Homo sapiens: one gene and its partners. The protein of the gene in region 3 interacts with the protein of the main gene of each other region in a pairwise test. Each region holds a gene or a part of one and is shown on either strand. Other genes may lie near its edges.

What was found. Proteins that work in one complex are often made in the same cells at the same time.
Region 1: the proteins of TMEM243 (region 3) and MTIF3 interact in binary tests that used the Homo sapiens proteins (3 or more experiments, as listed by UniProt).
Region 2: the proteins of TMEM243 (region 3) and TMEM101 interact in binary tests that used the Homo sapiens proteins (3 or more experiments, as listed by UniProt).

What each region holds. Positions count from the first base shown.
Region 1 is NC_000013.11:27,447,539-27,454,510, reverse strand, and holds the start of MTIF3 (translation initiation factor IF-3, mitochondrial), read left to right. Parts: upstream 1-3,946; 5' UTR 3,947-4,002; exon of another isoform or gene 4,003-4,659; intron 4,660-6,972. UniProt on the Homo sapiens protein: IF-3 binds to the 28S ribosomal subunit and shifts the equilibrium between 55S ribosomes and their 39S and 28S subunits in favor of the free subunits, thus enhancing the availability of 28S subunits on which protein synthesis initiation begins.
Region 2 is NC_000017.11:44,011,938-44,019,181, reverse strand, and holds the start of TMEM101 (transmembrane protein 101), read left to right. Parts: upstream 1-4,218; 5' UTR 4,219-4,229; coding exon 4,230-4,366; intron 4,367-4,644; coding exon 4,645-4,825; intron 4,826-6,026; coding exon 6,027-6,173; intron 6,174-6,945; coding exon 6,946-7,244. UniProt on the Homo sapiens protein: May activate NF-kappa-B signaling pathways.
Region 3 is NC_000007.14:87,209,718-87,216,743, reverse strand, and holds part of TMEM243 (transmembrane protein 243), read left to right. Parts: intron 1-7,026.

The sequences.
Region 1 (6,972 bases), on a different chromosome or scaffold from region 3:
TTTTTAAAACTTTATTACAATATGTCATTCATTTTAGACATTTTGCTGATTCACAACCACCACGTTTTAATAACTGAGGCCATCATATTCTGACAAGAGAAATGATTAATCTGGAGTCTAATGTTATGGGAAATCTCACTCATGGTAAGGAAATTTATTTTGAATCTAGCAAATAGTTTGAGAGCACACAAAGGGTTATAACACAGATGTGGTCACCAGATGTTCTCCAGCTCTACTGCAGAACCAGACTAAGTAGCAACATGATGGATTTAGGTTATGTAAAGGAAAAGACTCCCGTCTTATAAAACATTGAAATGAGAAGCTAAATCTCCTGGCCTCGAGTTTTGTTTTGGCTTGTTTTAAATATAGAGATGTTTTACATGTTTGGAATGGATTAATTATAGTCCTGCCTGAGGAAAATGGTAGAGATTTCATAAGAAGGCTTTCGGCTTTAATAGTTTCTAACAGACAATAATAGACACACAATATTGGGCTGACAGTATCTTCAGGAAGCTTTGAACGAGTTACCTAACACTCAGCCAAAGCCTCTTGCATGCCTTGTTTCTATGACTCTTGACAAGTCTGTAAACATCAACTAAGGAGAGCATGGACCCTTTTGGCTATTAAACTGGCCTTGTAATGACAGAGTTGCTGCTGTTTAAGATAACTGCTCTCAGCTACATTTAGTTGGCACTACATAGGATCTCACACATAATAGACTTAAATTCCCCCAATTTTAGCAAAACTGCCCAGGTAAGAGTTTATAATCTGGAGAGGGAGGAGTATCTAATCTATGAACAATTATTTGTTAAAGAATATGCTGAATATCTGAACCCACATGGGCTTTAAAGTTTGAAGATGCTTCGTATCTTCAAAATAAACCCAAGATTTTGACTGGGCATGGTGGCTCATGCCTGTAATCCCAGCACTTTTTGGGGCCGAGGCAGGTGGATTACCTGAGGTCAGGAGTTCGAGACCAGCCTGGCCAACATGGTGAAATCCCGTCTGTACTAAAAATATAAAAACTAGCCAGGCGTGGTAGTGGGTGCCTATAATCCCAGCTACTTGGGAGGCTGAGGCAGGAGAACTGCTTGAATCCAGGAGGCGGAGGTTGCAGAGCCGACACGGTGCCACTGCACTCCAGCCTCGGCAGCAGAGTGAGACTCCGTCTCAAAAAACAAACAAACAAAACAAAAAAACAACCACCACCAGGATTTTTATTAGTATTAGATTTTTAAATGAATTGTTAGTCATTGTGGCATTATAAAGACGCAGCCCAGTGTTCATAACTTTTTAAAGAAATCACCCACAGACTGATTCTTTTGTGGATCAGATATGTTGTACCTCAATGACCTTGGGCTAAGCAAGTAAATCTCACATACAATCCTGTTTTGGAAGGTCCCCTCGGCGTTGGGGAAAAGTGGGAGGACTTGGAAAGCTAACAGGCAAAGAGAGGGACGGGATATTTCCATTATTCCTTCATCAGAGCAAATCACCAATATATTCATTGAAAGAGAAAGTTCATGGGCATGCTATGGAAATTAACGTAGAAATTACTATGTAATAGAAAATATAGGCATTTTTAGAGTCACCATGATTTGAGTCTTATTGAGTTACATTTTTTGAGGGGGTTAAATTATATGTAGAAACGATAACAATTGGGAAAGCTCTACACATGTCTCAGAGTCCTCTTCTATGTACATAACGGAGTAGTTTATTAAAGATCTGTGGCATAGTAATAGCATTTCCCCAAACCTCTTCATCTTTATTCAAGGATCTTCAAAGTCTGCCCCCACCAAGCACAGCTCAAGGCTCTCAATGACTCTTTAAAAGCTTCCAAGTGGCCGGGCGTGGTGGCTCACACCCGTAATCCTACCACTTTGGGAGGCCGAGTGGGGTGGATCACCTGAGGTCAGGAGTTCGAGATCAGACTGGCCAATATGGTGAAACCCCGTCTCTACTAAAAATACAAAAATTAGCCCGACCCAGTGGCACGCGCCTATAATCCCAGCTACTCGGGAGGCTGAGGCAGGAGAATCGCTTGAACCCGCGAGGTGGAGGTTGCAGTGAGCCGAGATCGCGCCACTGCACTCCAGCCTGGGCGACACAGAGAGACTCCATCTCCAAAAACAAAACAAAACAAAACAAAACAAAAAAACAAAAAACCCCACAAAAGCTGCCAAGCTCCATTTCGGCTGGAGGTCAAAGAAGAGTTCAAGGGAAAAGATGAAAAAAATGGCTTCTCTCCATCTGTGGGCATGTCTGTAATTGCCACCCCATCTCTGCATGTCTCCTCCCAGGAACACTAAAGCACCATCTTCTAGGCGTGGAGACATCTGACAATGGAAGTCTAGAAAGCTTCCTAAACCACCTGCTCTGGACACAGCTGCCTTCAAAGACGGACTGCAAATGGATGCTGGCCGGTAGCTTCAGTTACCAGTGATTACTTGGTGTGAATCTACCTGTGCTATTACCTTAGCAAATTTTAAGTCTTTAGTTTGGGCATTAAATGTTTCAGTTACTTGTACATACTTCACATCCTTTTAATGTTTTCATGGACTCGTACTGTTTACTGTTTCTCTCACTACTTCAGTCTAGCAATGCAAGGAACATTTAAAGTTTGCCTGGGTTTGGGGTTTTTTGGCTTTTTTATTCTTGATTCTGCTACTAGTTGTGCGACCTTGGGCAAATTTGTTTCAGTTCCCTCATCTGTAAAATGGGTAATAATAATAATTGGCTCATAAGGTTGTCCTGAAGATTGAATAACTTGAGATATGTTCAGTGCGTAGAACAGTGTCTGGCACATAGGCAAAAGCAATCACAAATGTGGGCAATTATAATTGCTGAGCACCTAACTTTTCCCAGGTATTGTGCTACTCAGTCTGTCCCCGAATCTACGTCACACAAAATATCTTGGCATTGAGAAATAATTTTGATAGAATAAAATGAATCCTTAATTCTTCTTGATTAACTTGGAAATGGCCAAGATGCACACCTGGACTTTCGGTCTCACACAAGAGTTGTTTCATTACCTCCCTATTTTAACAGTGAGCGTCGAGCTACCAGCAGCTAAAAAGGAAATGGAGATTTCGTCTTTGCTCCCAAAGAACTATTTAAAGCTTTAGTAGTTGTGTCATCTGTAATAAAAGACGTAATGCTGACTCAAGGAGTTAATGAGAAATAAGACAACGCCTTCCAGTGGACAAGTAGCCAATAAATGTTAGTTTTTCTTCGTACCAGGAATCCAAACATTCCAGGTATGAAGCCAGATTAGGTGGCTTCACGACTGTGGACTCGCAGTCTGCCCTTGAGGAATTTCTTATTGAAGAAGAAAAAGAGGGGGGACACGGGGCCCAGACCCCCAGCACCCGGCTTTCGAGCAGGCTCCACGGGTCCGGGTCCGGGTCCGTTTTCCCTTTCGCCAGCTGGGGCCCCGTTCGAACCTCTCCCAACTACAACGCGGAGGCTCCGACGCCCCGGCCCCAGCTTTGTTTTGCCTCCGGGAGCCGCGCGCCACCGGGGACCCGCGGGGAGCCGTTCTCACTCCGAAGCTGTCTGCTCACCTGCAAATCGGAGACAGCGCCCTTTCACTTACGATCCTTATAAAAGACGCTTATAAAACATTTTATTCAGTGTTACATTAAAAAGACGTTTATGAAAGCAATTTATAAAGCCCTAGTGGGAGACCGAGATTGGTGTTAATGTAACTGGAGTAAGGGCTGCTCCGATTGCTGCAGAAATTCGACATTAGCCTTCACCGCACCTGCGGAGCAGCGGGAGCCAGGTGAGCAGCAATTTCCCCTCAGGGACTTCCTCCGCGTTCTCCGCATTTTCTGTCGGCGGAACTGAATCCCAACAGTAGAAAAACGTGGCTCCGCCCATCACCTTTCCTTTAAAGGACGCGGGGTGAAGCCCCGCCCACTACGGAGAGCGAAGGGGACTCGCCGCAGATCCGCTGTACTTGCGTCCGCTACAGTATGTCAATCGCTTGCCCCAGCACAGGTAATGCTAAATATGAGGCGTGCGGAGCGGTGCGCGGACCGGCATCGGGAGGGCGTGGCCTTAGGGGGCGCCCCTGTGGAGGAGGCACCCGGAAGGTCAGGGCTACCCCGTCCCGCCGGTACCGAGGGCGGAGAGGCTCCGCAGGTCCTGCTGCGGAGTCGGAGGGTTCTGCCGGGCTGTAAAGCCATTTTCAGCGAGGCCGCTGCACGAACTTCCGAGGGATGTTAGACCTAGAGTTGCCGCCAGCCCCACTGAGCTTTTCTAGTTCCGTCCCGACATGCGCGCCCTCGTTTGTGCGCACGCACGCACGCAGTACGTCGCTACGTCCCGTCTCTAGCCCTGGCGCTCCGCCGGTCCCGTTCTGCAGGTGGGCGTCGCCGCCGACTTACCAACAACCGGGTCGGGGGCTCCCGGAAGTGCTCTTGCGGCTTACTGCCTGGCACAGGTGGGGCAGAGCGAGCCAGGCGAAGGGCGCCTGCGCAGGACATGCTGGACAAATGCGTTGTTCTTGCTGCCTGCTGTTGCGGGAGGAGGCCTTATGGGGGAAGGTCGCGAAGTGACTGGGATTTTTTTTCTCATTTGTCATTTAGTGGGCTCCGTGGCTTAAGACTTGAACCAAGTAAACGAAGTTCTCTTACTGAGAAGTCTCAGTTTCAAGTACGTGTTGTGAAAGGCCTAAGTCTTAGAAAAGTAGAGGATGGAGAGAAGAATCTGAAAATCGACTACTATTCATTCTGTCAGGCACAACACAGTAACGAATAAGTCCATTTTGTTCCTGCTTCGTAGAGTTTACGGTCTAGTGATGGAGAACAGCAGTGCTAAGATCATCACAAAACTGTAATTGTAATGAATGTTTTAAAGGAAAGGTCAACTGGACTGTAGAAGCATTCAGTGTTAAGCTCAGTAAATTGGGGGAGGGATGGGAGAACTGGCTTAGTTTGGAAGGTAATCAGAAGAATGCGCTAAGGATCTGGCGTTTCCTAAACCAAGGACGAGAGTACTGTATTTCAAAAACCGAATGGCCAGTGTGGCCTAGGCATAAAGAAGAAACTGGAGAGGTGGGAAGGGCCTTTTGGCCTGGCGAAGGTGTAGATCTTTAATCTCGGGGCAGTTTTATTTAAGGTGAGGAAGGTCCTGGGTGTAGTGACCGCAGTGCAGTGGGAACTGGTTGCCAGGGCTCAAGCCGAGTTAGGAGACTGGCAGGAATCCAAACGAGGTGGTCGATGTTTTAAACTGACGGTGGTGACAGTGGATACGGAGAGGACTGGATGGATTCGAGTGGGGTTTAGGAAATGAAGTCGATGAGGCTTGGTGTTGGGTTGACTGGGAAAGTGGAGGCGTCAAAGGTGTCTTGGAGGTGACTGGAGGTTGTGGATGGGTAGTGATCCCATCACTAGAGTTCTGGAAGAAGACTAACATAGGATTAACATAGGAGAATAAGTTAAAAAAAAATTTTTTTTGAGAGTCTCACCCTGTTGCCTAGGCTGGATGCTTAGGCTGGAGTGCGGTGCACGATCTCAGCTCATTGCAACCTCTGCTTCCCGGGTTCAAGTGATTCTCCTGCCTCAGCCTCCCAAGTAGCTGGGAATACAGGCTCACGCCACCAGGCCCGGCTAGTTTTTTTGTATTTTTAGTAGAGATGGGGTTTCACCATGTCGGCCAGGCTGGTCTTGAACTTCTGACCTCAAGTGATCTGCCTTCCTCAGCCTCCCCAAAGTGCTGGGATTACAGGCGTGAGCCACCGTGCCCGGCCGTAAGTCCAGTTTTTAATACAGAGTCTTTAGCTCTGGGTTTAAAAGCTTTTTAAAACATATGGTTATTATTTCAATTTAATAGCTAAAGAAATAAGGTTAAATAGTTGGCCAAAGATATAATGTTGGCTTTTTCCAGTGTTCTAAATGGGAGTTCTAGCACGTAAACAGCTCAGCCTCATTATGGAGAGTACACTTTGTGCTCCCTATGGAAGAGCAAAACCAGAGCCAAGGGAGGGGAGCATGAAGGCCCAGTAACGGTAGCGCAGGCCCTCTGGGATTAAGGCTGCACTGCTCAGGCCAGAATGGGGCAACTGGGACAGTTTGCAGGCAGAAGCAAGGACTTTATGAAACTTCTTTGGAAGGTGTAAAAGAGTTCTTAGAGTCATGAGAATTGGCAAAATTAATTTCACAAATATTTAGTCCGCTAGAATCTATGCAACTTTGATCCAATCTCCCAGGAAAGAACAGATAACAGTATGAGCTTGTGAATATCAGCTGTATGAGAAAAGCAGTGAGTGAACAAATAATAGAAGTTATTTTCGTCTCTTCAGTCCACATGATTTCAAATGCATGCAAGCAATTTTTTATAGGACGAGAATGCCCACCCACCCACCCCTCATATCTACTAAACCACATATTTAAATCATGTTCCAGGAAGTTTCCCTGCAAATATTTTATCAGTACTTCCGGTAGAATGCAAAATAATGAATTATACAGGGAATACAGCTGTCCTTTGGAGCAGTAATAATTGTCTTTTTTTTGGTACAAGAATGTTCACAGCAGCTATTCATAAGAGCCAAAAATAAATAAATAAATAAAGGGAACAGCCTAGGTGTTCATTAACGAAAACTAGATTTAAAAACTGCGATATATTCATATACTTGGAGGACACTTCTTAGAAATAAAAAGGAACAAGGTAATGATCCGTACAACGTGAATGAATCTCGAAACATGCTGAGATGTCTTACAACAAAGAGTAGATATTGTTTGGTTCCATTTATATGAAGTCTTAGGACAGACTGATGGGAAAAAATCAGAACAATAGTTGCCTCTTGGGGATGGAGATTGACTTGGAAATGGCAAGAGGGAACTTCCTGGGATAATGGTGATGTTCTGTCGATAGGAGTTTTGGTTACAAAGGTATATGCACTTGTCAAAACTCAGATAAAGTCTGAGTAATCATCGAATTAAAAATGGATATCATACTATAAAGTTA
Region 2 (7,244 bases), on a different chromosome or scaffold from region 3:
TACTATATCATTTGCTTATTATATCTGCATTGCCATTTATGTGGGATAAAGCTTGTTTACCCTTAAAGGTATTGTATGTGTGCCTTTTCTTCTCCCCTCACTCGTCTCTCGCACAGAACACTAGGCAGGGGTAGGAGGAACTGGGAGTGGGGGGACCACAGGGACAAATGGCTGTGTTCATTTCTCAGGGGCCAGGCCACCCACCCATCCCCCTCTTCTGGCCTGATAGCATGCCAGCATCTGTCCCAACCCTAGAAATGAGGATTTGGCCCCAGGTCCTTCCCTTCTCAGTATCCCTCTGGGAAAGAGGAAAGAGCAGGAAAAGGTAGAGAGGGACTTCAGCCCTGAGAAGGGGCGCAGTGGGTACCAAGGCAAGCTTCCTCAATCCAATCTTCCCCTCCCCCTGACACAAGTCCCTGGCCACTGCTGCTGGAGACTTGATTGGAAACTGCTTGCTAAGGTTATGATGGGAGGGTGGGGCATTGTGCCTATAGGGACAACCCAGGCAGACTCCTAGGACTATTTTATGGACATGTTGTACACAATCCTGGTTCTGGTCCTCGTCAACACTTTAGGGCTGTACACCTCAGCCATTTGAAACGGAGAGGTGAGGAGACTGGAAAAATAAAACCAACTGGAAAGTTGATTCTGTACTATGTGCCTATATTGTGGTAAAGGAAATTTGTTTTGTGTGGTTGTCACTGGTGGGTAGAGATAGACAAAATTACCTTTAACCCAGACTTTTTCTCATTCTCCTTGCCTAGAGACCTCCCCACCCTCCAACATACACGTATACAATCTCATTCCCTAGTTCTTTGCATCTATATGTTCCTCTCTCGTGTTTTTTTACTTTTTAGAGATGGGGGTCTTGCTTTGTCACCCAGGGTGGAGTGCAGTAGTGCAATCATAGCTCAATGCAGCCTCAAACTCCTCGAGGAATCCTCTTGCCTCAACCTCCTGAGTAGCTGGATTACAGATGTGGGCCACCATGCCTGGCTTCTCATGGTCTTTCTGATTTACCCAGACCTTATCCTAGTGACTGTGTTTGTTTATTTATGAGATAGAGTCTTGCTCTGTCATCCAGCCTGGAGTGCAGTGGTGCGATCTCGACTCACTGCAACTACCTCCTCCCAGGTTCAAGCGATCCTTCTGCCTCAGCCTCCTGAATAGTTGGGATCACAGGCTCCCGCCACCATGCCCAGCTAATTTTTAGTAGAGATGGGGTTTTGCCATGTTGGCCAGGCTGGTCTCGAACTTCTGGCCTCAAGTGATCCACCCGTGCCTCTGCCTTCCAAAGTTCTGGGATTACAGGTGTGAGCCACCATGCCCGACCCTAGTGGCCGGTTTAAAATGAAATGTGAAAAGGGGTTTTATTGCCCACCTTTCACTGGCTGGTTGGGAATTTTTTTTTTTTTTTGAGACAAGAGTTTCGCTCTTGTCGCCCAGGCTGGAGTGCAATGGCGCGAACTTGGCTCACTCCAACCTCCGTCTCCCAGATTCAAGCAATTCTCCTGCCTCAGCCTCCCAAGTAGCTGGAATTACAGGTGCCTCCCACCATGCCTGGCTTTTTTTTTTTTTTTTTTTTTTTGAGATGTTGTCTCACCTTGTCACCCAGGCTGGAGTGCAGTGGCGCGATCTCGGCTCACTGTAAGCTCTGCCTCCTGTGTTCACGCTATTCACCTGCCTCAGCCTCCCGAGTAGCTGGGACTGCAGGCGCCTGCCACCACTCCTGGCTAATTTTTTTTGTATTTTTAGTAGAGACGGGGTTTCACTGTGTTAGTCAGGATGGTCTCGATCTCCTGACCTCGTGATCCTTGGCCTCCCAAAGTGCTGGGATTACAGGCATGAGCCACCGTGCCCAGCCTAATTTTTTGTATCTTTAGTAGAGATGGGTTTTCACCATGTTGGCCACGCTGGTCTCGAACCCCTAACCTCAGGTGATCCAACCCCCCACTTGGCCTCCCAAACTGCTGGGATAATAGGCGTGAGCCACCACACCCGGCCTGGTGGGAATTTTTTTTTTTTTTTTGAGACAGAGTCTCTCAATCTGTCGCCCAGGCTGGAGTGCAGTGGCGTGATCTCGGCTCACTGCAAGGTCCGCCGCCCAGGTTCAAGCGATTCTCCTGCCTCAGCCTCCCAAGTAGCTGGGACTACAGGCGCCCGGAGTAGCTGGGATTACAGCCATCACGTCTGGCTAATTTTTGTATTTTTAGTAGAGACGGGGTTTCACCATCTTGGCCAGGCTGGTCTTGAACTCCTGACCTCGTGATCCACCCGACTCGGCCTCCTAAAGTGCTGGGATCACAGGCGTTAGCCACCGCGCCCAGCCCAACACCTTTTCATTTATCTGTACAGCACATATTTCCTGAGGGCATCCTGTATACTAGGTCCTGAGGGCATCCTGTATACTACAGATGGTTCCCAGCATTGGAGTTTTCAACTTTACATTGGTGCGAAAGCAGATCTGCATTCAGTGGAAACTGTATTTCTCTTACAATGCTGGGCAGTGTCAGCAAGCCACAGCTTCCAGTCAGCCACACATTTTCAACTTACAGTATTTTCAACCTATGATGGGTTTATCAGGATATAACTCCATCACAAGTCAAGGAGCATCTGTAAACAGTAAACAGAAACCCAGGCACCGTGTTTGTGCTTAGGGAGCTTGCGATCTAGTAGGGGAAGATTGTCAATAAAACAATCACAAATATATTGGCTGGGTGCGGTGTCTCACGCCTGTAATCCTAGCGCTTTGGGAGGCCAAGGCGGTTGGATCGCTTGAGGTTAGGAGTTCGAGAGCAGCCTGGCCAACATGGTGAAACCCTGTCTCCACTAAAAATAAAAATTAGCCGGGTGTGGTGGCAAGCGCCAGTAATCCCAGCTACTTGGGAAGCTGAGGCAGGAGAATCGCTTGAACCTGGGAGGTGTAGGCTGTAGTGAGCCAAGATCGCACCACTGCACTCCAGCCTGGGTGACACAGTGAGACCCTGTCTCAAAAATAAAAAAAAAGCATATATATGTAAAGCAGATATATATATATGTGTGTGTGTGTGTGTGTGCGTGTGTATCTATATCTATCTATCTATCTAATTGCCACCGTGCCAAGTGATTCAAAGGAAGGTAGCTGATGTTATGAGAACATATAAACGGGTGGGGCGTGGGAGAAGGGGCTGAGAACACACTGGAGGGGAATGCAGAGACCACCTGGATGTCTGCTGCAATTAAACTGACAAAGTATGACAATTTGGGTTACAGCGGGAGCATGGCAGCTGGAGAAATGGACTGACTTGAGATGTCCCAGATGTTCAGATCTCCTTTTTCTCTCAGGGCACAGGCAAAAGGCAAACCCAAAGAGGTGACTTTGAGCCAGGAGGACCCCTTACTTTGATCTTAACAGAAACGGGGGTTTCCTCTGGTGCGTTATGTGTATCATTTATTGAACCACTACTATGTACTAGGACCGACCTTGTCACATTTAAAGTTCACAACTCTGGCCTGGCGCGGTGGCTCATGCCTGTAATCCCAGCACTTTGGGAGGCCGAGGCGGGCGGATCACGAAGTCAGGAGATCGAGACCATCCTGGCTAAGACGGTGAAACTCCGTCTCTACTAAAAATACAAAAAATTAGCCGGGCGTGGTGGCGAGAGCCTGTAGTCTCAGCTACTCAGGAGGCTGAGGCAGGAGAATCGCTTGAACCCAGGTTGCGGAGGTTACAGTGAGCCAAGATCGTGCCATTGCACTCCAGCCTAGGCGACAGAGTGAGACTCCGTCTCAAAAACAAAACAAAACAAAAAAAAAAGAAAAAAAAAGTTCACAACTCTGAGGTAGGTGTAATTATCCCCATTTCATGATGAGTCTCATAAAGTTTAGGTGATGTGCCCAGAATCACACAGGGTTGGAATCAGGATTAGGGCCCTGATCGGGCTGCATTCAAAGACCAGTTTGCTTCAATACATCATACTACGGTCCAAGACTTCTGCTATCCTGAACCCACTGTTCCTTCCTCTAGTCTAGTTTTCAAATTCGCAGGGACAAATATGGCCCTGAAGGCTCCATGAGCAGACGAGAAGGCTGGACTTCGCAACTGGGTCACCTTAGATCCGGAACTAGAGAATGACACCGTTGTTTCCGGGAGGAAAAAGAAAAAGCGCTTGACCCGGAAGCTGCGTGTCCCATCCCCGCGCCTGCTTCTCTGACTGGGGTGAGGCCGCAGCGGACTGCCCTTTCCCAAGATGGCGTCGAAGATAGGTTCGAGACGGTGGATGTTGCAGCTGATCATGCAGTTGGGTTCGGTGCTGCTCACACGCTGCCCCTTTTGGGGCTGCTTCAGCCAGCTCATGCTGTACGCTGAGAGGGCTGAGGCACGCCGGTGAGCAGGCCTACGCAGCCGCTAAACGCGGCAGGGGGCGGTGATGTGGGCAAGAAATTGGGGGCTAGAAGTCGGGACCCTTGAACTGGGAGGAATTGGGACCTCCCTGGGAGGGGTTCTGGTCTGGGTGTCGGACCAAATCTGGTAGGGCGGTCCTGCCCATGGGAGGGGAGTCTGGTTTGGGGGAGCAGTGGAGCCTGTGGGAACTCAAGGGGTCTCAAGCTTCTTCCCCCACCGCTTCATTCTGTCCTCGTTGCTTCCCCACTCCCGGCTCGCAGGAAGCCCGACATCCCAGTGCCTTACCTGTATTTCGACATGGGGGCAGCCGTGCTGTGCGCTAGTTTCATGTCCTTTGGCGTGAAGCGGCGCTGGTTCGCGCTGGGGGCCGCACTCCAATTGGCCATTAGCACCTACGCCGCCTACATCGGGGGCTACGTCCACTACGGGGACTGGCTGAAGGTGAGCGCCTCGGCCCCAAAAGGGTCTTCCCTCTGGGTGACGGGGAATCAGAGGCCAATGCCCAGGGCTGTTGGTGGGCGATGAATGGTGCTGGCCAGCTGCACAGTGTGAAGCCTGGGAGGTTCGAACCCCTTGGCTTATGGAGATTACAGAGCGCAGAAATGGATCTTAGAGACCACACAAACTTCCTCTTCAAAGTGTGGAAACTGAGGTCTAGAGATGGGAAACAGACTTTCCCAAAGCCACAATACAGGATACTGGTGGGACCAGAACCCCGGTCACCTGGTTCCCAGAATCTTTTAAACTGTTAGTTTAGTAATCTCAGACTCATGGGGTACAAAGGACCTTGGAGAGTACCTAGTTTTCATAAAATAAATTTTATGAAAATGTAATTACTGTTAGTATAGCATTTAAGCCAGAACCTGTGCCAGGCCCTGCAGGCTGGAGATAAGGTTGGACAAAGGCACTGTCCTTGAGGAAGAGACTGTCAGACCCTTAGGGGAGGAAGATGTGTGAACAGCTACAGGGCAGCAAGATCAATGTTTTTGTGGCATAGATCCCATGCCATGTAGAATAAAGAACACCAAGATTAGAGTCTACAGATCTGAGAGTGGGGAAGGGAGAAACACATTGTGTCTGGGTTCTGCCACTTACTGGCAGGTAGGACCTGCCAGTTTTCTTTTTTGTTGTTGTTTTTTGAAACAGAGTCTCTCTCCGTCGCCCAGGCTGGAGTGCAGTGACGCTGTCTCAACTCACTGCAACCTCCGCCTTCCAGGTTCAAACGATTCTCCTGCCTCAGTCTCCCAAGTAGTTGGGATTACAGGCGCCCTTCCCCACGCCCGACTAATTTTTGTATTTTCAGTAGACAGGGTTTCCTCATGTTGGCCAGGCTAGTCTCAAACTCCTGACCTCAGGGTGATCCACCTGCCTCGGCCTCCCAAAGTGCTGGGATTACAGGCGTGAGCCACTGCGCCTGGCCAGACCTGACAGTTTTCTTAACCCTCTGGGCCTCAGTTTCTACTTCTATATATATATAAAAAGAATGATCTGTCTCTGTTGCACCTGCCCACCAAGCTTGGAAATGTAAGAGGGTTCATCAGATGGAATGGGATGTGTAGAGAGGGGTGGTTCTACACTCTGGGAAGCCAGGAGAGATGTGGCGGCTGCAGTTCTTGACTGGGGTCCCCTTACCCCGGCCTAGGTCCGTATGTACTCGCGCACAGTTGCCATCATCGGCGGCTTTCTTGTGTTGGCCAGCGGTGCTGGGGAGCTGTACCGCCGGAAACCTCGCAGCCGCTCCCTGCAGTCCACCGGCCAGGTGTTCCTGGGTATCTACCTCATCTGTGTGGTATGTTGGGGGACTGTTGGTTGGAGGTGCCTGGCTGGGAGTGAACTGTGAGTCTAGGCATGGCAGAACCCCAGGAAGGTAGACACAGAACGAGGCCCTGAGTGCAGTTCCTGATGGCCCAGTTCCCTGGGAATTGCCCTGGCCAGCTTCTAGGCCTCAGGGGCCCTCCAAATGCCTGTTGAGAGGCCCTTCCTCCAACAGTGTTGCCACGAGGTAGACTGGCCATTAAATTTCAACCCTGAGAGCCAGGAGAACAAGATGGGGTGATTCTCTCATGGCTCCAGCCCCCAAAGGACTAGAAGGGGATAAAGGAGAGGTTTGGTGGGGGTCAGGCCCCAGCTGGGACTCTGCCCCCTAGAGCTGATGAGAGCTCTAGGGTAGCCACTTATGGTTCTCCCTGGTGCTAGGGGAGGCCAGGGTGACTGGAGACATGGACAGGCGCCAGGCCATTAGGTCTTATCTTAATTACCGAGTATATCTCTGTACAGCTCTCTGTGTGGGCTCCCATATTCAGAGGTGGGAGCTCTAGTCTGACTGTGGAAATACACTTCCTTCATAGCCCCTAGGGTGAGGGGAGACATGGGCCCTAATCTCCTGGGGCTCCATAGTCCGAGGGGGAGACAAAGGCCCTACTTTCAGAGGTTCCCCAGTCCAAGAGGGGAGTCAGAAGCCCATCTGCAGGGACTCATTTGCAGGTGCCATCTCAGGGGTGGTTTACCCCAGACAGGCTTCTGAGCCTGTTGGAGAGTCTTAGAGGATGTTATGTCTCCAGGCCTACTCACTGCAGCACAGCAAGGAGGACCGGCTGGCGTATCTGAACCATCTCCCAGGAGGGGAGCTGATGATCCAGCTGTTCTTCGTGCTGTATGGCATCCTGGCCCTGGCCTTTCTGTCAGGCTACTACGTGACCCTCGCTGCCCAGATCCTGGCTGTACTGCTGCCCCCTGTCATGCTGCTCATTGATGGCAATGTTGCTTACTGGCACAACACGCGGCGTGTTGAGTTCTGGAACCAGATGAAGCTCCTTGGAGAGAGTGTGGGCATCTTCGGAACTGCTGTCATCCTGGCCAC
Region 3 (7,026 bases):
TGAGGTGAGTGAGGGATAATGAAATCTATTATAGAACAATGACTATTAATATATAACTAAGTTGGCCTTGAGCAGCACCCTCTTGGGGAATCCCTGAAGGAACTTTTTTTGCCTTTATGGGTGCTGAGTGCACATAGTGATTTCAGTTACTGAAATTTGTTCAATCTTTAGCATGAAAATTGTTCATTCTAAGTTATTCCTATTTAGGAATAGCTTTACAGACATAGTCATGGAGAGAAAGGCAAAGTGAAACAGTTCTCTATTGTTCCATAAATATCTAAGGGATTTTTTTGTCTTTGAGGCAGTGTCTCACTTTGTAACTCATATCGGAGTGCAGTGGCCTGACCACGGTTCACTGCAGTCTCGACCTCCTGGGCTCAAGCAATTCCCCCACTTCAGCCTCCTGAGTAGCTGGGACTATAGGCGCCTTCTACCAAGCCTGGCTAACTTTTTTTTTTTTTTTTTTTTTTGAGACGGAGTCTCACTCTGTTGCCCAGGCTGGAGTGCAGTGGTGCAATCTCGGCTCACTGCAAGCTCCGCCTCCCAGGTTCATGCCATTCTCCTGCCTCAGCTTCCCAAGCAGCTGGGACTACAGGCACCCACCACCACACCTGGCTAATTTTTTTTTGTATTTTTAGTTGAGATGGGGGTTTCACCGTGTTAGCCAGGATGGTCTCGATCTCCTGACCTTGTGATCTGCCCGCCTCGGCCTCCCAAAGTGCTGGGATTACAGGCGTGAGCCACCACGCCTGGCCCTTTTTAATTTGTTGTAGAGATGGGGCTTCCTGTATTGCTCAGGCTGGTCTCAAACTAGTGGCCTCAAGCGATCCTCCCACCTCAGCCTCTCAAAGTTCTGAGATTATAAGCTTGAGCCATCGTGCCTGTCCTAGGGATTATTGACAAGACAAAAAACGAAAGGTGTTCATCTTTTGTAAGAAACATAGACCTCATTCCTTGATACCTATGGAATTTTCATGTTAGGTTGGCTATCTTATGAATCCTAGTTTGAATGCCCAGATGCTTTTTACATCTTTTTTGAACCATTCCCAAGTTTTGTGCTATAGTACTTCTCTTTCAGGTGAAAAATATGGCACAGATACCAAGATGATAAGAAATATCTGAAGTTTCCAAGCCTGTGTTATGGCTTAGCATTTTCTAAAAGAGTGCTGTCCAGTAGAAATATGATGTGAGCAGCCATATATGTAATTTACATTTCTTAGTAGCCATATGAAAAAGTATAAAGAAACAAGTGAAATATTAATAATTTTATTTAACCCCTTATTTCCAAAATATTAATACTATCATTTCAACATATAATCAATATTTAAAAAAAAATTTTAAACTAGGCATGGTGGCTCAGGCCTGTAATCCCAGCACTTTGGGAGGCTGAGGTGGGAGAATCACTTGAGCCCAGGATTTTGAAACCAGCCTGAGCAACAAAATGAGATCCTGTCACACACACACAAAAAATTAGCTGGGCATGGTGGCACCCACCTGTGGTCCCAGCTGCAGGCTCGCACCACTGAACTCCAGCCTGGGTGACAGAACAAGACTCTATCTCAAACAGAAAACAAACTGAGATACTTTTACAATTTTTTTGTATGAAGTCTTTGAAATCCAGTATGTATTTTACATTAACAGCCCATCTGAATTCACGCTAGCCATGTTTCAGATGCTCAGTTACCACGTATGGCTAGTACAGGCGATGTCCCAAATCCAAAATCCGAAATGCTCCAAAATCCAAAACTTCCTGAGCACTGACTTGATGCTACAAGTGGGAATTTCCACACAAAAGTACTTAACACAAACTTCATTTCATGCACAAAAATTTTAAAAATATAAAATTGTCTTCCAGGCTATGTGTGTAAGGTGTATATGAAACAAATTTTGTGCTTAGACTTGTGTCCCACCCCAAGATCTCACTATGTATATGTAAATATTCCAAAGCCCGAAAAAATATCTGAAATCAGAAACGCTTCTGGTCCCAAGCATTTTGGATAAGGGATACCCAACCATTTCAGACAGCTTAGTTTTAAAGCAGCTGAAATGTTATGGTGATTCCATAACCAAGTTTGTGAAACATTTTTCTTTGTTGTGGGACTTTGGAAGCTTTAATATGCCAATTTTCATTGTGACTATAGTTGGTGAGGGTGGATGAGTAGCACTTTATAAACTGTTTAGGTGGTGTGGCCTTTTTAGCCCTAGCACAACGCCTTACTCAATTCTTAACTCCAGCTCCCTAGAGCATTCACTAGATACGTTTCTGCAGAATATACTTTGGGAAACATGGTTCAATGAATCGCCTTCCTCTGCTTTTCCCTCCCATCCTGCCCCCTAGGGTAAACTAAAACCTGAAAATGTCCTCCCCTCTTCTGCCCACAACTACCTTTAAAAGTTTTCTTTAGTACAAGCTTTAGTACACAGTTTGGACAGTCTTTCCCACTGTCTTGTGTTAGAAGAGCACTAAATTATTCTCAGGGCTTGCGAGTCAGTCTTGATCTCAACTTATTAGCTGGCTGTGGTATCATCTGAAGTCAGTTTCAGTCCATCTAGACTGGTGAAACTAGGAGGAGAGGGAGAGAATGGTTTTCTCGAGAAAGCAAAGCAGCATCCCATAGCTAGGGCAAATGGGAAAAGAAGGAACACTCTCCACTTGGTGCCATGTAGTGCAAACGAGTTTCTAAATCAGCCCACTCTGTGGGTGGTCACTGATCACAAAATAAGTGACTCATCCTCTAAGAAGGGTGGTGACAGTTCTTGCTCCTTTATTCCTTCTTGGATGTGATATATAAAGTCAATGATTTGGGGAGAAGGTACATACACTGAATTCCTCAGTAGATACCATAGTGAGAGGGAGGCCCTCTGTGGAGGGGGCAAGTGTAGTGGGCTCTGAGGCTCAGATCTTTGGTTCCAAAGACAAAAGTATCTTCCTTTATCCCCATCCCCCCAATAAAAAAAAAAAGAAGAAAACAAAGACGGTGAAAAGCAAGGGCTTTTTATGATTAGTGTTAGTCAAGCAATTCAAACTTGGAGCATTTGGCCTCTGCAAATAATCATGTAAGATTAGAGTTGCTACTTCATGCCATTTTTGTTGTCGCTTATTTAAGAACAAGGATCAGTAGGGATGGTAATAAAATAATTTTTAAAAATGCAAAGAAGAGAAAAAGAATAAAGCTATGATTAAGATAGCTGGGTCTGTGCCAGCAGCCCCTTCCTCTGTCTTAGAGCTACCAATGCTATTCTCTGAGGAGTGCAGGCTTTAGTTTATTTCCTCTAGATAGAGCTTCTAGGTGATCAAGCACAGCTATTTCTCTCAAAGGAGGGTTAGTCACCCAAAGGTGAAACAGTTCTCTCCTCTCCTCTCATTCAGCCTGCCAAAACAACTTTGCCTTTTTTTGTGTGTGCTAGAAAAGTAATTAAGAAAAATAAATGCCATCACTTTTTCTTTAGTACTCTAAGTTTTCTCTCTTCCACCCCTAGATCAGTGGACTGTAATCTCTGGGTGTGGGGCCTAGGCACTGGTATTTCTGGAAGGTCCTCAGGGGATGCTGGTGCATAGGAAGGGTTGAGATGCACTGGCCTTACTCTTGCTGTGTGTAAGCCCAGTCCAGGCTAATACCTCTCCATGGACCCCTTCTTTTAGCTGCCTCTTTGCTCTTCATAAATGTCGTTCTCCTTTCTGCTGTGTCCTCTCTTCTCTAAATATCTGAATTCTGCTCAGTCTGATTCCCTACTTTAGAACCTTCCCTGTAATCCAGTCTCTTCTCACTTTCCTTCTGTGAGCCTGGCTGTCAAAGATGTGCCCTGGCACTTACTCCTTGTGCTGTGAGGGACTTGTGTAGGTCTTGCCTCCTAACTATAGAATAAGCTCTTCTTTAATGGTAGGTGCCAGTTTCCTCATTTTTGTAGCCTTTTTAGCCCTAGGGACAATGACTTACCAAGTTCTTGATTTCATGTATATTAAGTTTTAAGCAAAGTGAGAATTTAGCGTTATCAAAAAGTAACCTACATTCTTGGGACATTCTGAGCTCACAGTAGAAGGCAGGGACTGTTTAGAAACCTGGATATGCTAGATATCAAAACAGGAAATGGTGCTTCAAGCTCTCATGCAATTAAAATCATTTTTCTCTTTTTCTTTCTGCTAAGTTGTATGTAGCAGAGGCCAGTAGTAAATAAAATATTGTATTAAAAAAAACTTAAACTGAGGTCTGGTCTCTCAGAAGCTGATGGTCTACTGAGTTTTCTCTGGATGTGATTTTTGCTGGTCTTTGGTAATATCCTTTGCTTACTGAATTGAGTCACTTTTTTCTTATAGTTGGCTCATAGGCTATGTATGGGTATAGTGACCATATTTTCTGAGTTGCTGAAGGGACATATGGGTGGATAAACCTCAGTGTCCCTGTGAGAATGGTGGAATGCATTTGAAATTGGAGCTGCCATAGAAATTGGGGCCAGGGTGTGAAGCCAGCTCAGCTCTCTCAGCTCTGAGGAGCCTGATCTCTCATTGGTAAGATTCCCCCTTAGACATGGTATAAATAGTGCAAATACCATATTAGCTGCCATTTACTGACCCTCTACTGAATGTCAGATACTCTCTTGTAGGGGCTTTCTATGTATTCTCTTCTAATCCTTATTACGACTTCACATGGTAGACATTGTACAAATATGAAAACTAAGGCTTAAAAGTTGTAACTTTTAAAATACAGGTCCACATGTAGCAGTGGAGGTCATGTGTTTGGGAGAGAATCGAGTGTAAAAGTTGTAAAGGGTGGGTGTGCCCAAATTCTCATAAATGCTTTCTCTTGCACATCCCGTGCTCTCGGCACTGTTCAAAGTCTGGTGTTGCTTTGGGAAGTCTCAGAGCAGTAGTACCTATGGGTCATAATTCGCGGCGTCCTAGAGTTAGCCAGTGAGACAGAATGTCTCCTTGCTTTCCACCTGTGTGGCTGCTATACCTCCGGTTGTCTCTAGTGACAGTGCAAGGGGAAGCTCCTGTACAGTCAGAGCCATGCTGCTCTGAGGGACCCATATTAAATCCCTGGACACAGGGCCTGAGGTTTCTTTATTCAGCTGGGCTCAAAATAAACCTTCTCCCACATTTTGCATCCTCTCGTTATGCTTTTTCCTGGCCCCTTAGGCTTCTGACTGGGCCACTTACACAGCTTTCATGGTGAGAAGTTGTGATTTGGAAGAAGAGAAGCAAAGTCATTTCTGAGAATCAAACTTTTATTTATGGTATTGGGACCCTTAAGTTTGCTTGAGAAATGCAGAACTTTGGAGGCAAAATTGTAGGATGTGGCTCAAGGGTCTGAATCACTCAGTCCAGGTAAACAATGGTAGGAAGTAGCACCCTTTGGGCATTTAATACCTGCTCAATGTGTTGCCTTGCTCTTTCCCCATCCCAGGAGAAGACAATCACTGTCTTCAGTGGCCTGAGGAACTCGTGGGTAGGGAGGGTAAGGGATGAGTATAAAATGGGATTGAGCCTTTTATAAAAGGAAGAACAAAGTGCCTGGAGGTATTGTTCCTAGACCAAACTGAGGGTCAGGCTGCTATTTCTGGTGGCCCAATAATGAGATGCAGTTGAGGAGCTGAATGTTAATAGGTAAGACAATGGGGAAAATGTCCCCAGGGAATTTCAGAGAGCTTCACAGCAGCCCCCACACTACAGGCCCTGAGGCCTGTCAAGGAAAAATGGTTTTGTGGATCAGGTCCTGGACTCCAGTGCCCTGTGTCACAGCTGCTCCAGCTCCAGCTGTGGCTAAAAGGGGCCAAGATATAGCTTGAGCTGTTGCTTAAGAGGGTCCAAGCCCCAAACCTTGGTGGCTTCCACGTGCTGTTGGGTCTGTGGGTGCACAGAAGGCAAGAGTTTGGGAGCCTCCGCCTAGATTTCAGAGGATGTATGGAAATGCTTGGATGTCCAGAAGTCTGCTGCAAGGGGGAGCCGTTATGGATTGCATTGTATGCCTGGAAAAGCCACAGACACTCAGCGCCAGCCTGTGAAAGCAGCTGTGGGGGCTGTACCCTGCAGAACCACAGGGCCATGTGGAGTTGCTCAAGGCCTTAGGAGCCCACTCCTTGCATTAGTGTGGCCTAGATGTGAAACATAGAGCCAAAGGAGGTTATTTTGGAGCTTTAAGACTTAATGACTGCCCTGCTGGGTTTTAGACTTGCATGGGGCCTGTAGCCCCTTCATTTTGGCTGATTTCTCCCTTTTGGAATGGGTCTGTTTACCCAATGCCTGTAACCCCCATTGTATCTTGGAAGTAACTAACTTGTTTTTGATTTTACAGGCTCATAGGTGGAAGGGACTTGCCTTGTCTCAGATGAGACTTTGGACTTGGACTTTTGAGTTAATGCTGGAATGAGTTAAGACTTCGGGGGGACTGTTGGGAAGGCATGATTGGTTTTGAAATGTGAGAAGGACATGAGGTTTCGGAGGGCCCAGGGGCTGAATGACATGGTTTGGCTGTGTCCTTACCCAAATCTCATGTCAAATTGTAATCTCCACATGTTGAGGGGCAGGGAGGGACGTGATCAGGTCATGGGGGCAGTTTCTAATGGTTTAGCACCATCCCCCAGTGCTGTCTCATGAACGAGTTCTCATGACATCAGATGGTTTAAATGCATGTGGCAGTTCCCCGCTCCCACACGCTTCCCCGCTCCCGCCCTCCCCATCTGTCCCCCCTTCCCCTCCTCTGTCTCTCTGTCACCTCCTCCCCCTCCTCTCTCTCTGTCCCCCCTCCCTCTCCTCTGTCTCTCTCTCTGTCCCCCCTCCCCCTCCTCTGTCTCTCTGTCCCCCTCCTGTTTCTCTCTCACTGTCCTCTCTCTCTGTCTCTCACTCTCTCACTGTCTCTCACGCTCTCACTGTCTCTTGCTCTCTCTCTCTCTCGCTCTCACTGTCTCTCTCTCACTGTCTCTCGCTCTCTCACTGTCTCTCGCTCTGTCTCGCTCTCACTGTCTCGCTCTGTCTCGCTCTCACTGTCTCGCTCTGTGTCTCGCTCTCACTGTGTCTCGCTCTCACTG